2 linked regions of the Homo sapiens genome follow. The protein of the gene in region 2 interacts with the protein of the main gene of each other region in a pairwise test. Each region holds a gene or a part of one and is shown on either strand. Other genes may lie near its edges.

Region 1 (7,616 bases), on a different chromosome or scaffold from region 2:
ACTCCCTGCCTCAGTCTACCTACCTGTATGACGCAGGTGGGCAGGAAATGGTGCAGGTGGGAGAGTCTGCGGTCCAGCCTTGCTGTGACACAGTAGCATCTCACTGTCTTGCAGAATAAAGCAACTCGGGCATGTGACCTCGAGGCCACTGTGTGCCTTTGTCACTCAGGCATCCCTGGCATGAGTCACCACCTTAAGGTCAGGGACCCAGGACCTCTGAACCCCTTCTCACTGCTGCGTTTCCGTCCAGCCCCGTCTGCAGCCTGAGTCCTCCGTAGTGACTGTCCAGGATGTGGGGCCACCCCGCCCACTGGGGAGCAGCTCCATGCAGGCGGGCGGCCCTGGTGGCTCACCATCACTCCCAGGACCACAGCTGCCTGGAGGGGCACAGCAAGCGTGCCAGGCAGGTGGGGGATTAGGAGGTGGATGGAGTTTTAGGAAGCAGCTCAGCCTTCGGGAGGCCCAAGTCCAGGCTGCCGCGCAAGTTCAAGAGCCTTTTTCTGGTAGCTGGGAGCGAGCTTCGTCTGGCACTGGCTCTCAGGGCCCTGCTTGCCAGAGCCTTTCCCGACCGATGAATTCAGGGCTGCACGGTTGCTGCGTGCGGAGCAGACGTGGACGCTCTCGTGTCGTCATGTCGAGCCACAGGTGCTCTTGGGATTTCAGGAACATGACTCATTTTATTTTGGAACTTAGAAATAGAAATATTTTTGGAGGCGAACGAGGAAGCAGAAAACAGCAGCTGTTCGGGCCGCGTGTTTTGCTTTTGTGGATGTGCTCAGGATTGCTTTGGGCCTCGTGCCCTGTGCTGAGAACTGCAGAGTGGACCTCAGCCTCCCTGGGTCACCTGGGCTGGGGCCACAGGCAGCAGTGGGACATGGGTGGCCCGCCCTTACCTGTGCCCATTGTCCTTGCAGGTGCCTGTGAAGCATGTGTACCGTGTGCTGCAGTGCCAGGAGGAGGAGCTCACGCAGATGGTGTCCACCATGTCCGACGGCTGGAAGTTCGAGCAGGTGAGGGGCCCTGGCCAGCCTGGTGGCAGCCATGCTGCAGCTGAACTTGTGCTCACAATGGCTCAGGGCTCAGTGCTCCTGGAAATGCAGACTTTGCTGCTGGCGTCTTCCTGCAGTTCTGGGGGTGCTCACGGCAGCGACCTGTGCCCTGTTTCCACTGGAGGAGCCTTGGGAGTTCGGGTGGGGTGGGCAGAGGTGTCTCAGGCTCTGCCCCGCACCTTCCCCTCCTCCCTGGCCTGCCTCTTCTTCCCAGCGCTGCGCTTTCTTCGCATCATCTGGCACCTCTGTGTGAGGGAGGGGACTGGCGTCCCCAGAGCCTCCTGGCCAGCCCACTATCCAGCGCAATCCCCGTCCCCCACAGCTCACTCCATCGGAGCATATGGAGGCCCTGACGCCTTTCCCAGGCTGCCTCCCCTTCCCGCCCATGCTGGAAGGTGCTGCCAGGCCCTCGTTGCCTTCTCTCTGGTTTTGGCAAGCTGCGGCGGGTGGGGTCTGATGGGTCTGTGCAGGGCATGCCTTCTTCAGCAGCTTCCACGGAAGCCACCTGAGTGCTGCATGGGCCACTGTGCCATGGCATTGTGGCTTGTCATCGGGGACCTCAGGACACGTGAGGCATGGCCTCTGACCGGGGGGCCCTTGCCCACGACCTGGCTGCCACTGTTCCTGGTGCTAGACAGACACTGAGGGTGGGGACAGTGACCTCACCCAGCCCTCCCTGTCCTGAGTTTCCTCTGTCACTTGCTTCTGTCTGGGGCAGGTTCTGTCCATGGCCCAGTGCGCCTGCCAGGTTGTGGGAGTGACAGGCTCAGCCAGTGTCCCTCTGAATGAAAGCTACCTTTTCCTTGGAGTCTTTCAAAATAATAGATCACATTGTAGGGTACTTGGAGCCCCCCCCCCCTTAAAATGTCACTAAAAACATTTGTGTCCCACCGTCCACCCTGGACCCCTAGGCCGGGGGCCGGGGTGACTCTGGGTCTCTGTGCTGACAGGGCTGCTGACCAGCTGCTTGGTCCCTGCCCTGCACCTCATCAGAATCGTGCCAGAGCCTCCCACGGGAACAGAAATCTTTGCTGCTGGGCGAGCCCCACCTCCCAGTTGTCCCTTGGTGGGGCTGGGGCCCTGGGAAGCCGTGTCAGCAGCTCGGGGTCCGCGAACAGGGCTGTCCCCATGTGGCACCTGTGCTCTTCTGCCACCGTCTTGTGACTTCTGGCTGGGAGGGAACAATGTCTCCTGCCCGTGGTGGGCACCTGCCTCCCGGGGCAGCTTCAGGTCTTCGACCTTAGCACTTCTGGGTGGATTCCAAACCCATTGCAAAGAACGGGTGTCCTCCCCCTTCCTTGATTACGACCTGCTTGGCACGCTTCATCCCTTGGGGACCCCTTCTCCCAGTTCATGTAGGGAAGCCGCTGGGCTGACCAGCTGTCCCGGCTGTGGGGTGGGACCCTGCGGGGTGCTGGGAGGTGGCCAGACCGGACCCAGGGTCCCCAGTGGTCAGCAGGGGATTGCAAGCAGGGCTTGGAAGTGGCTGTGAGGACACAGGGGCTCCGGGGGGCATGGCCGTGAGTGCTCCCAGGGGTACCCTTAGCTGCTTGGGCCCATGCCGGCACCCCTGTGGCCGCCTCACTGGGCTGGGTCCACTGCTGCCCACTGGGTCAGCCGCCAGCTATACAGGAGCAGCAGGTAGCTGCGGGCTGCTCTCCCGGCCGTTGGTCCAACTGCGCAGGTCTTAGAGAGGCCAAAGTGTGAGCCTCGTCCAGCTGCTTTTTGGCTTGGTCATCTGCTGCTGTCATGCTTATTGTGATTTGCGTATTGCCTTTTAATTTTCCCTTTAAAAGCACAGAAGTGCCTGGTGGCCCAGGGTAGCCAGCCATGGGCCAGATGCCTGGCCAGAGAGACAGGTTGGCCCTGGACCTGCATTGGCCTGGCCTGCCTGGTGACCCGGAGGGAGGCAGGTTGGAGTGGCCTAAGGGTGTGGCCAGCAGGCTGCAGCAGACCCGCCCTGGCCGAACTCCTGGACAGCACAGCTCCTCCAGCGGCTTTCGGTCCAGTCAGCTGGTCCCAGGCTCTTCCCTCCAGGTTTTCAGAGCCGCCCTCCACTCTCCTCCCGCTGCCCCCCTCCCTCCGCCCCAGCTCAGGGACCCGTCTGTGCTCCGTCCCCCTGGGGCAGCAGCCCCTTTTGGCCCAGCTGGAAGCGCCAAGGAAAGCTCAGGGTCCTCACAGAGGAAGAGCTCGCCCCATGCCATGCCACGGCGTGGGGTGCCGCCCCGTGTGCTCGTGCAGGTGTTCCGGGGATTTGTTTTCCATCCATTTCCTGAAGCGTCGGCAGTCTTTGCTGTGGCTTTCGCGGTGGCAGGCGCGTCCTGAGGCTGGTCATGTCAGCCTGGCTGGGTCTCTCAGGCTTCACTGGGCTGCGTCTCAGGCTATGTCTCCTTGCAGTTGGTCAGCATCGGCTCCTCTTACAACTATGGGAACGAAGACCAAGCCGAGTTCCTCTGTGTGGTGTCCAAGGAGCTGCACAACACCCCGTACGGTACGGCCAGCGAGCCCAGCGAGAAGGCCAAGGTGAGTGCTGGGCCGGCCCTGGCCTGGGGCAGTCTTGGGTGGGGAAGGCTCTTGCCCTCTCAGACCTTCCTCCTTTTCTGCCATTCTCATCAAGCTCCCGGTGTCCGCCCCTGGTGGCCTTGCTGACTTCTTGGACACACGGTCTCCCGTGGGACAGGTTCTCTCGACACAGGCTCCCAGTAAGCCCCTGCGGCCTCCCAGCCTGCATGCAGAGCTGCTCCTGGAAGGGGCCCCAGGCCTGCTGCAGGGGCCATGCTCTTAGGAATGCCACTGAGGGCTGTGTCTCAGGGGACCCAGGGTCCTCTGTTCCCCGGGCCCAGCCTCTGCTGTGTGAGTGAGGACTTGGGATGCTGAGGCCTGGCTGTCATAGGGGTCTGGGCCATCCCTGAGTGCAGGGACATGGGGGTCCAGTTGTCGTGGTGGGGGTCTGGGCCATCCCTGAGTGCAGGGGTGGGTACCCTGGCTCAGCCACTACGTGGGCCTCATCTTTGTCGAGAGGAGGGTGTCCTGCAGGCCCTGGGATTCTCAGGCTGCACAGAGTAGGCCCTTTGCGGCACCCAGCCTGGCAGCACCGGCGCAGACTCTGCGGGGGCTCAGGCCCTTCTGTTTTCTGCGGGGCAGGCAGCTGGGGTGAAATGCAGGGACCCCTGCCTCGTTTGCTTTCAGGTTGGCCCTGTGGCCCTGCCCACAGGTGACCCATTCTGGTGGCATTTCCTCTAAGCACGTTCTTAAGGTTGAGGCTCCAAGATGGACAAATGCGTCCATCCAAGCAGAATCTGACCTTGGCCTGGGCCAGCTGCACCTGGCAGGACTCCCGGACCTCAGAGCCAGGTGGTGGCTGGAGAGCTCTTGGCTGGGGTCTGCGTGGGTCTGGGAGAGCCTGGGTGGTGGGGCGGGCTCTGTGGGGAGCCAGCCTGGGGCGAAGGCTCGGGGCATTGGCAAAGGGTGTTGAGTGGGTGCCATGAGAGGCCAGAACCGGAAGGCTTTTAACTGGTGGCATTAAACCAGGGACACCTGGGCAACCGCAGACTCTTGGCTGGGGGCCTCTGGCCGGCCACCAGCAGCCCAGGACTGTCCCCGTGAGCCTCTCCGAGTAGGCCTTTGGAGGTATGCCCTTGGGAACAGAGGGGTGGGGCCGCCAAGCATGTCTCTCGGAGGCCTGCGGCCAGCTCACGGCAGCCTTTCCACCTCAGGCGACTGTCCTGGCCCAGAGCCTCCCTCGCTGGCCACCCGTTGTGCTCTTGCTGTGGGCAGAGGCCAGTCCTGCTCCACTGCCGTTCCTCGAGGCCGAGGCAGTGTAGGCTGGGGCAGGCCCTGGTGTGGGACAGCCGGGGTGGAAGCTGGGGTTCCACCGCCAGGCTCGGAGATGCTCTTCCATTTGAGTCTCGGATCTAGGAGGCGACCCCTGGCTCCCTGAGAGCCCCAGCTCAGTCACAAGGAGGCACTTCTCTTCCTCTTGGAGCAATCGTAGGGCTCTTTTCTAAATGGTTTTATTTTTAGAAGTTTTTTATTTCTGAGCTGAGTTTTTATAACCAAGCTCCCCTGGGCTCCTATCCCTCAGGTGGCTTGGCAGCTGCAGAAAGGACACGCTCTGTACTGTGAGGAAGCTCCAGGCATGACCCCAAATCCCTTTGTGGTTGAGAATGTGGCCCTATTTCATTTTCCAAAAATACCTGCTCTGAAGTGGGGCAGCTATGGCGGCTTCTTGATGGGGGTGGTGTCAGCAGTGCCCCAGGAGGCAGAGCTCAGGCCAGAGCCTCAGGAGGCCGTGGGGGATTGCGGGGGCCAGAGCTGGAGGACCGTGATGGGGGCACCCCTGGCTGGGCTGCGCAGGGCCGCATGGGCTGTGGGCCCTCGTCGCTGGTGTCCCTGCAGCATGTGTGGCCTGGCCCTGCTGGGCAGCTGTCCCCCACTTCAGTCAGCGGCGGCGGGAGAGCCTGGGTGGTGGGGCGGGAGGGGTTGCACCTGTAGCAAGTGAAGGCGGTCCACACATGAGCACACCTGCTTCCCACGCCAGTCCCTCAAGAACTTGCTAGAAGGACTCGCAGAGCTCACTGAGAGCGCTTAGACTCAAGGCCGCCATTTATTCCCAAGGAACAGAGAGAGACAGGCTCAGATCAGCAAGGGCGGGCACCTGGGCAGAGGCCGGGGTCTCCCAGTGCCTGGGCGGCTGAGGAGGGGGTTCCTTGGTGGTGTTGGGGCTCCATTGCGTAGCCATGCTCGATGGGTGCATCCACCGCCTGCCCCCGTGGCTGATCCCTCCTGTGACCCAGGGCCCCACCCTCCCTCCTGCAGCAGTGGGGCCAATGCAGTGGGGTCCACAGAGCCCACGCAGCAGAGGCCCTCCTATCAGGCCGAGATCTGTGGGCTAGCGCCGCCTGCCAGGAGTGGGGCCAGAGGCCAGGCGCCTCTGGACAGGGTTCAGCCCCTCAGCACATGGTGGGACAGGACCAGCCCCGGATCGCAAGATGCAGCCGCCTCACACGTGGAGGTTTCCACCTCTGAGATGTGGCAGAGCCCCTGAGCCTGTGTGTCCCCTCGTGGCGTGGCCTCACTGGAAGGTCACCGGGCGTGGGGGTTTGGGCCCGGGGCACCCGCCCACCCGCACTGTCCTGACAGCCTGTCTTCTCCCCCACTGCGCGCTGCACGCCGCCAGAGTGACGACGAGGACCAGGGGCACCCAGGGAGTGGCTCAGATTAAGTGTGAATGTCATGGTGAGCTCCGTGGCCTCCTTGACCCCATGGCCCCAGCTGACCCTTGCCACAGACCCTCCCTGTGTGTCTGTCCCTGCCTGTAGTTGACGAGAGCCGTCCGCACTCCATGCCAGCTGTAGATCCTCAGTAGCACTGTCTTGGTGGTGGGGCTGTTGCTGTGAGGCAGATGCCCAGGGGCAGTGTTGGGGCGTTTGTTGGGATGACTGGAGGGTGCCCGTGCCAGGCCAGGCTGTGGACATCAGTGGTCGTGAACCCAAGAGCCCCTCCTGGGGGCTGGGCAGGGAGTGCCACTCGTGCCGCCAGCCCTAGTGGGTGACCTTCCTGTCTGGCTTAGGCCACAGGCTCAGGGCCAAGGGGTCAGGACCAGTGCGGCAGACAGCAGACCCCTATCTCAGCTGCCAAATCCTGCGGCATCCCTGATGCGCTTAAGCCTCCCAGGCCAGCCGTGTCCTGCAAGCCCCTCAGCCACCCGGGCCTGCCTGCCTGTGGGGGTGTCTGGCCATGGGGTACAGCCTCAAGGGCCCCCTGGTTGGTGTCTGCAGTTGGACCTTCCTGTGGAAGATGGCCTAGGGAGACAGTGTGTCCAGAAAAGATGGGTCTCACCCCAGGCTCTGTCTAGAGTAGCCCGTGCTGCTCCCGGCCTTGGGAGGGCGAAGGACAGCACTTTGGCTGCAGGTCTCCAGGGTGTCTCCTGCCCTCATCAGGAGGGAGCTGTTGGGGCTCCCGGATGCTCAGATGCCACACTGCTCCTGGCCTGTCCGCTGCGCTACTTAGTTTTACACAGGGCTGGTGGGGGCTTGGGGGCTGCACTGTCTCCCCAAGTCAACTCCAGACATCCCAGTAAACTTGGGAATCACCCTGGCCCAGGGAGGGACGTGCTGCCCCTCGCACAGGGGGATGGGCTCCTCCGAGGCACTGGAGAGTGAGTGGGAGCCTCGAGCTAGAAGTGGTCCAGGGCACTGAGCCTGGGGGGCACCCGCCTGGGAACGGCAGAGCTGTTGGGGGGTGGAGTATTGGAGTCAGGCTGAGCAGCTCAGGGGACGTGGCCTCCAGGAGCCTTCGGAACAAGCCTGGGGTGGCATGCACCTCTCACCACTGCCCTCTCTCCGGTCAGTGCGGCATGGCAGTGACCTCTGGGAGGCTGTGCCCGGCGAGGGCGTGGGCGTTGCTGCCCTACCTGGTGTTGGGCAGCCCTCACGTGACACATGGAGACAGCTGTTGTGGGCCACGCACAGTGAGGCTGGCTGGCTCCGAAGCTCTCTGCTCGGGAGCGTGGGGTGATTTCCCCTCCACCTGGTCTCTGGAGCTGCCATGGCTCATTTTGGGAGT
Region 2 (8,234 bases):
TAAAGATCTGTAGTAGTACTTTTCCAACTTAGTTTTATCCTGTTTTCCGAAAAACAATCATTTATTTATTTATTTATTTATTTAATTTTATGAGACAGGGTCTGGCTTTGTCACCCAGGCTGGAGTGCAGTGGTGCGATCTTGGCTCACTGCAACCTCTGCCTCTCAGATTCAAGCCATCCTTCCACCTCAGCTCTGCCACTGAGTAGCTGAGACTACAAGCACTCGCCACCATGCCCGGCTAATTAAAAAAATAATAATCATTTTAAATGCAAGCTTTATATTATAAATACAAAGTAAACATGAAAATAAAACCCAAACATAGCAGTGTTATTAAACTCTGGCCTGTAGCAGTGGCTCACACCTGTAATCCTAGCAGTTTGGAGGCCGAGACAGGTGGATTACTTGAGACCTGGAGTTTGAGACCAGCCCAGGTGACACAGCAAGACCTCATCTCTACTAAAAATAAAAAAAAATTAGCCAGGTGTGGTGGTATGCACCTGTGGTCCCAGCTACTTAGGATGCTGGAGTGCGAGGATCGCTTGAGCCCAGGAGGTCAAGGCTGCAGTGAACTATGATCACTCATTACACCCCAGCCTGGGTGACAGAGCGAGATGCTGTCTCAAAACAAAACAAAACGAAAAACAACTCTGGCTAGATGCTATTGCTTGCCAAGGGTGCAGTCTTCCATTTATTAAAAGTGAAAATTAGGGCCAGGCACATTGGCTCATGCCTGTAATCCCAGCACTTTGGGAGGCTGAGGTGGGTGGATCACCTGAGGTCAGGAGTTCGAGACCAGCCTGGCCAACATGGTGAAACCTTATCTCTGCCAAAAATATAAAAGATTAGCCATGTGTCGTGGTGGGTGCTTGTAATCTCAGCTACTTGGGAGGCTGAGGCAGGAGAATCACTTGAACCCAGGAGGCAGAGGTTGCAGTGAGCCAAGATTGTGCCATTGCACTCCAGCCTGTGCAACGAGCGAAACTCCAACTCAAAAAAAAAAAAAAAAAAAAAAACGGAAAATTAGGTAATACTGCAGATTCATTAATATCACAGCAGCACTAAACTCAGTCTTCCTCTGTGCTGGGCTCAAGGGAACTGAAAGGGAAGTAACTTGCTATGTGGTTCAGTGTCATTTCATGCTGTGTCACTGCACCACTTAAAATCTTCACCCGGAGACTATGTCCCACACATGGGGAAATCAATCACCGTCATATTTTAAGTGCTTGCTGTGTGACAGCCACGATTACAATGACTGTTACTCTACCTCTTATTCTCACTGTAGTGTTCCCAGTGAAGCGGCGGAACCGGCACAGCCTAGTGGGGCCTCAGCAGCTAGGAGGACGGCCAGCCCCTGTCCGACGGAGCAACACGATGCCCCCCAACCTTGGCAATGCAGGGCTGCTGGGCCGAATGCTGGATGAGAAAACCCCTCCCTCACCCTCAGGTACGTTTCTATCTCGTGGAAGGTTGGGGCAGCTGTGGGGTCCCTGTGACCCTCTTCTGATCCCTACTCTTCCCCTCAAGGACAACCTGAGGAGCCGGGGATGGTGCGCCTGGTGTGTGGACACCATAATTGGATCGCTGTGGCCTATACCCAGTTTCTAGTCTGCTACAGGTGCTTGGGGAGGGAGTGGCAGGAGGTCCCAGCCCTGTTGATGGGAAGGGCATGCGGTGAGGGTTGGTGATGTCCCCTCGATCCTACAGGTTGAAGGAAGCCTCTGGCTGGCAGCTGGTGTTTTCCAGCCCCCGCCTGGACTGGCCCATCGAACGACTGGCGCTCACAGCCCGGGTGCATGGTGGGGCTTTGGGTGAACATGACAAGATGGTGGCAGCAGCCACCGGCAGCGAGATCCTGCTATGGGCTCTGCAGGCGGAAGGCGGTGGCTCCGAGATAGGTATGACCCCAAGCCTTTTCCAGAACCCTCTGTCCTTTAAATTCTACTGCCTGTTAAAATGACCCACCCCATAAAATCCTCAAACCCATAAGAATTCTCTGCTCTATTAGATCTGTTTGTGTCATTAGAATGCTCCAGCCCTTCAGAATTCTGTATCCTGTTAGAATTCCCTGGCTTCCTAGAAAAATCCACCCACATACAATTCTCCCTCCATCAGAATTCCCTGCCCTGTTAGATCTCTTGGTTTTGTTAGAATGCGCTATTCTGTGTGGCCATGAGAAATGTCTGACTTGGCCCGGTGCGGTGGCTCATGCTTGTAATCCCAGCACTTTGGGAGGCTGAGGCGGGCAGATCACTTGAGGTCAGGAGTTCGAGACCCCCTTGGCCAACAGGGTGAAACCCAGTCTTTATTTCAAAAATACAAAAAAATTAGCTGGGTGTGGTGGCACGTGCCTGTAATCCCAGCTACTCAGGAGGTTAAGGCAGGAGAATCACTGGAACCTGGGAGGCAGATGTTGCAGTGAGCTGAGATCGCACCACTGCATTCCAGCCTGAGCGACAGAGTGGACAGAGTGAGACACCATCTCAAAAAAAAAAAAAAAACAAAAAAAGAAATCTCTGACTTATGGCTGGGCACAGTAACTCACATCTGTAGTTCCAGCACTTTGGGAGGCCATGGCAGGAGGATTGCTTGAGGCCAGGAGTTCGAGGCTGCCGTGAGCTATGTAAGCCATGATTGCACCACTGCACTCCAGCCTGGACAACAGAGCAAGACCCTGTCTCAAAGCCACAGCAACAAATCTCGGACTTATTAATCTGTCCCCAAATAAATCTCAGCCCTCGTAAGAATCCCCTGCCACCAGTGGAGGTTTTTTTGCCTTATTGCAAATCTCAGTGCTGTTAGAATTCCAGACCGTTTTAGAATCCCATACCCCATCAGAAATCTTCTGGCCCATTTTATCTTCTCTAATTCCTGCTGGAATCTTCACTTTTTTTTTTTTTGAAATGGAGTCATTCTCTGTTGCCCAGATTGGAGTACAGTGGTATGATCTCGGCTCACTGCAACCTCTGCCTCCTGGGGTCACGCAATTCTCCTTCCTCAACCTCCCAAGTAGCTGGGGCTACAGTTGTGTGCTACCACACTCAGCTAATTTTTATATTTTTTAGTAGAGATGGAGTTTCATCATGTTGGCCAGGCTGGTCTCAAACTCCTGGCCTCAAATGATCCGCCCACCTGAGCCTCTCAAAGTGTTGGGATTACAGGTGTGAGCCACTGTGCCCAGCCCCTGATGGAATCTTCTATCCTTCAAGGATTCTGTGGTCCCACTGAACCCTCTGGTCCTTGGAGTTCTTCCTCCCACCTCTCCTCCTCCATGAGGCAGGGTTCCAGCTGAGCCCTTTTTGCCCACTGCAGGGGTCTTTCATCTGGGGGTGCCTGTGGAGGCCTTGTTCTTCGTCGGGAACCAGCTCATTGCTACAAGCCACACAGGGCGCATCGGGGTGTGGAATGCCGTCACCAAGCACTGGCAGGTCAGAGTTCTGGCCAGCCTGGCTGCCCCCTTCCCAGTTTTCCAGACTGTACAGACCCAGGAAGGGGTTCACGTCTGCCCCCACCCCCACCCCCTAAGCCTGGAGGAAGCCAGAGAACCAGCAGCTGGCCAGAGCCTGGGGATGTCTGTGATAAAGGCCTAAGGAGCACCAGGGAAGCCTTCCTGGAGGAGGTGCTGCAGAGCCCACATGAAGCATGAATGGGTTTGAAAAGGAGTAGGGAGGATTGTCTTGGGACTGGGTGAGAGAGCAGGTTAGGGGGGATGCTGTAGAAGACAAGAACTGGCTTGGCTCGGTGGCTCACACTTGTAATCCCAGCACTTTGGGAGGCTGAGGTGGGAGGATGGCTTTGGGAGAAAGACAGACAGAGGCAGAGAAAGAGACAGAGAGGCAGAAAACCAGGCAAATAGAAATAGAAAATCAGAAAGAGGTGACAGAGAAGGGTAGACAGAGTCAAACCAGACTGAACCACTGTGGCAGATGGGGGAACTCAGAGAGATAAATGGAGATGAATTAGAGTCATGTCAGAAGTACATAGTGGAGGCCGGGTGCAGTGACTCCCGCCCGTAATCCCAGCACTTTGGGAGGCCGAGGCAAGAGGATGGCTTGAGCCCAGGAGTTTGACGCCAGCCTGGGAAACATAATAAGACTCTGTCTCTACAAAAAATTTAAAAAATTAAAACTTTAAAAAGTACAGAGTCCAGGAGAGGCCAAGAGTCAGACAGACAGATGCATCAAAGGGAGGAAGGGAGGGAACAAGACAGGGACAAAGGCAGGCCTGGGGTGGACGGGGCTGGGGAGCAGTGGGTGGGTTCTGGAGGTGGAGGAGAGGGCCCATCCTCTGTGAGGGGTCACCACGGAAGGAAAGGAATGGAAGGGCTCCCGGCTGCAGCCTGTCCTGCCCCACCCCCAGGTCCAGGAGGTGCAGCCCATCACCAGTTATGACGCGGCAGGCTCCTTCCTCCTCCTGGGCTGCAACAACGGCTCCATTTACTACGTGGGTGAGCAGCAGCCTGTGTCCCGGGTGCCCGAGACCCTCCCCTGGGAGAGGGGAAGGGAGGGAGAGAGGCTGGGGCACTTGGAACAAACCCGCTCCACCCTCCCTGCCCACCCCAGATGTGCAGAAGTTCCCCTTGCGCATGAAAGACAACGACCTCCTTGTCAGCGAGCTCTATCGGGACCCAGCGGAGGATGGGGTCACCGCCCTCAGTGTCTACCTCACCCCCAAGACCAGTAAGCTATGACCCGGCTTCCCCTGCTGCTGTCACCTGCCAGCCCCAGCCCCAGCCTGCAGCTGTCCCCCAACTTGTGTAGCATGACCCAGAGGGGTTTATCGAGGGGCGGCAGATTCAACTCTCTCTCATTTTTTTTTCTGAGACAGACTCTCATTCTGTTGCCCAGGCTGGAGTGCAGTGGTGCAATCTTGGCTCACTGCAACCTCCACCTCCTGAGTTCAAGCGATTCTCCTGCCTCAGCCTCCCAAGTAGCTAGGATTACAGGCGCCCACTGCCACGCCTGGCTAATTTTTGTAGTTTTAGTAGAGATGGGGTTTCACCATGTTGGCCAGGCTGGTCTTGAACTCCTGACCTCAGATGATCCTCCCGCCTCAGCCCCCCAAAGTACTGGGATTACAGACGTGAGCCACCGCGCCCAGCCAGATTCAACTCTCATCCAGTCATTCAACAAATATTTACTGAGTATCCCTGTATATAAGCACGTTCTAGGTGCTAGATGGTGGCCACCCTCTCCACTAGGGGCAGAATGGACCATTAGGAGTTAATCTTTGTGTTTCTTTCCCACCTTTGTGATTAAGGCATGATGTTCACATGTTCATAAAACAACACAGATGCAGGTTTTACAGCAGATGAACCTGAGTTCTCTTACTTGAGACAGTTTTTTGTTTTGTTTTCTTGACATCAAATGCAGAATGGGTTAATTTTTGAGACGTAATTCTCATACCATAAAATTTCCCATTTGAACGTGCACAATTCAGCGGATTTTAGTATATTCACAAGGTTGTACAACTATCACCATGAACAAATTCCAGAGTATGTTCATCACCCCCGTAAGAAACCCCCTGATCTTTAGCAGTAACTCCACATTTCTCACTTCTGATACCCTCTAGAAATCACTAATATGCTTTCTCTTTTTGTTTGAGACAAGGTCTCGCTCTGCTGCCCAGGCTGGAGTGCAGTGGCATGATCTCAGCTCACTGCAATCTCTGCCTCTTGGGTTCAAGCGATTCTCATGCCTCAGCTTCCTGAGTAGGGGAGGATTACAGGTGTGCATCACCATGCCTGGCTAATTTTTCTACTTTAAGTAGAGACTGGGTTACGCCACGTTGGCCAGGCTCAATATGCTTCCTATACCTATGGATTTGCCTGTTCTGGACAATTCCTGTAAATGGGATCATACATTATATGGTCTTTTGTGTCTGCATTTTTCACTTAGCATATTTTTTTAAATGGTTAGTGTTTTCTGGGTCTTAAGATATCCTTACCTATTCTAGGTTACAAAGATCTTCTCCTGAATTTCTTCTAGAAGATTTACAGTTTAGTTTTTACATGGAAGTCTGTTCTATCAGAAATTAAATTTTATGTATGGTGTGAAGCAGGGATTATTCTTTTTTAAAAAAAAATAGAGACAGGGTCTTGCTCTGTTGCCCAGGCTAGAGTGCAGTGGCATGATGTGAGTTCTCTGCCACCTCCGCCACTCGGGCTCAAGCGATTCTTCTACCTCAACCTCCTGAACAGCAGAACCACAGGCATGCATCACCACACCTGTCTAATTTTTGTATTTTTTTGTAGAGACAGGGTTTTGCCATGTTGCCCAGGCTACTCTTGAACTCCTGGGCTCAAGTGATCCTCACACTTTGGCCTCCAAAGTGCTGGAAATACAGACTTGAGTCACTGTGCTTGGCCATAGCTGCTGCTGCTGCTTTTCTTTTTTTTTTAAAGCAGAAATAAGTTAATAATACACCTAACTTCATGACACATTATCACCTTTCTTCTTTGTAAGGCCCTTTTCTTATTTCTTTTTTTTCTTTCTTTCTTTTTTTTTTTTTTTGTCTTTTCCTGAGACAGAGTATCGCTCTGTCATTCAACCCAGGCTGGAGTGCAATGGCGCAATCTCAGCTCACTACAACCTCTGCCTCCTGGGTTCAAGCAATTCTCCAGACTCAGCCTCCCAAGTAGCTGGGATTACGGGTGCCTGCCACCATGCCCAGCTAATTTTTGTGTTTTTAGTAGAGGCAGGGTTTTGCCACGTTGGCTAAGCAAGTTTTGAACTCCTGGGATTCTCCTCTCGTCGTCTCCCAAAGTGCTGGAATTACAGGCATGGGCTGCTGCACCCGGCCTCTTTCTTATTTCACTTACTTACTCATTTCCTCCTCATCTCCCTTCCCGCCACATGCCACTATTATGTCATTTTTCTTTGTTTTTTGAGACAGTCTCGCTTCGTCACCTAGGCTGGAGTGCAGTGGCGCAATCATAGCTCACTGCAGCCTCACCCCCTGGGCTCAAGTGATCCTCCTACTTCAGCCTCTTGAGTAGCTGGGATCATAGGTGAATGCCATCACACCCAACTAGTTTTTTAAAAATCTTTTGTAGAGATGAGGGTCTCACTATGTTGCCCAGGCTGGCCTCAAACGCCTGGCCTCAAGCAATCTTCCTGCCTCGGCCTCTGTTCTCTGTTTTACTTTCTCTTTCCTCTCTTATTTGCTGTTTCACTGTTACAATTTCTGTCTCTGGGCCTCTCCTCCTTTGACCTGTGCCTTTGTCTCCCTGTTCCTCCATTTCCCACATCTCATCACCATCTTTTTGTGTCCTTCCCTCTCTCCTTGCTTTCTGACTGTGTCTCTGTTCTGTGTCTCTTTCTTTCTTTCTTTCTTTTTTTTTTTTTGAGACAGAGTCACATTCTGTCATGCAGGCTGGAGTGCAGTGGCGTGGTCTTGGCTCATTGCAACCTCTGCCTCCTGGGTTCAAGCAATTCTCATGCCTCAGCCTTCTGAGTAGCTGGGATTACAGGTGCGTACTACCACCACCAGCTAATTTTTGTATTTTTACTAGAGACAGGGTTTCAGCACGTTGGCCAGGCTGGTCTTGAACGCCTGACCTCAAGCGATCCACCCGCCTCAGCTTCCCAAAGTGATGGGATTACGGCGTGAGCCACCGTGCCCGGCCTCTCCTTGCTTTCTGACTGTGTCTCTGTTCTGTGCCTGTTTCTTTCTCCCTGCCCTGGTTTCTGTCTCTGTGGCCCAGGCCCTCTCCTCATCCTTGGCCCCTCACCAGGTGACAGTGGGAACTGGATCGAGATCGCCTATGGCACCAGCTCAGGGGGCGTGCGGGTCATCGTGCAGCACCCGGAGACTGTGGGCTCGGGGCCTCAGCTCTTCCAGACCTTCACTGTGCACCGCAGCCCTGTCACCAAGATCATGCTGTCGGAGAAGCACCTCATCTCAGGTGAGCCTCTGTGGGGTGCTCCAGTGCTGGGAGAGACAGCTCAGATGGGAGTGTGGAGACAGGAGGATGAGAATTTCCACTGGGGAGGGACATTGTGTAGGAAGAGAGCTCTGGCGGAGAGGATTGACCTGGGATGGGACTGTAATTGCAGAAGTGAGAGAATACCATAGGGGATCAGTCTGGGGAAGAGTGAATCTGTGTGTGTTTGGGAATCCATCAATTCAGCAACGATTTACGGGGCACCCACCATGTGCCAGGCATAGGGGATACAGTGATGAACAAGACAGGCCAAGTCCCTGCCCTCGTGGAGCTGACATTCTAGCAGCGAT

What was found.
Region 1: the proteins of SHKBP1 (region 2) and KCTD5 come close enough for resonance energy transfer, tested with the Homo sapiens proteins (one study listed by BioGRID).

Annotation. Positions count from the first base shown.
Region 1 is NC_000016.10:2,698,907-2,706,522, forward strand, and holds part of KCTD5 (BTB/POZ domain-containing protein KCTD5), read left to right. Parts: intron 1-914; coding exon 915-1,010; intron 1,011-3,446; coding exon 3,447-3,572; intron 3,573-7,616. UniProt on the Homo sapiens protein: Its interaction with CUL3 suggests that it may act as a substrate adapter in some E3 ligase complex. Does not affect the function of Kv channel Kv2.1/KCNB1, Kv1.2/KCNA2, Kv4.2/KCND2 and Kv3.4/KCNC4.
Region 2 is NC_000019.10:40,579,040-40,587,273, forward strand, and holds part of SHKBP1 (SH3KBP1-binding protein 1), read left to right. Parts: intron 1-1,284; coding exon 1,285-1,446; intron 1,447-1,526; coding exon 1,527-1,617; intron 1,618-1,706; coding exon 1,707-1,897; intron 1,898-3,311; coding exon 3,312-3,427; intron 3,428-4,358; coding exon 4,359-4,446; intron 4,447-4,561; coding exon 4,562-4,678; intron 4,679-7,704; coding exon of another isoform or gene 7,705-7,734; coding exon 7,735-7,905; intron 7,906-8,234.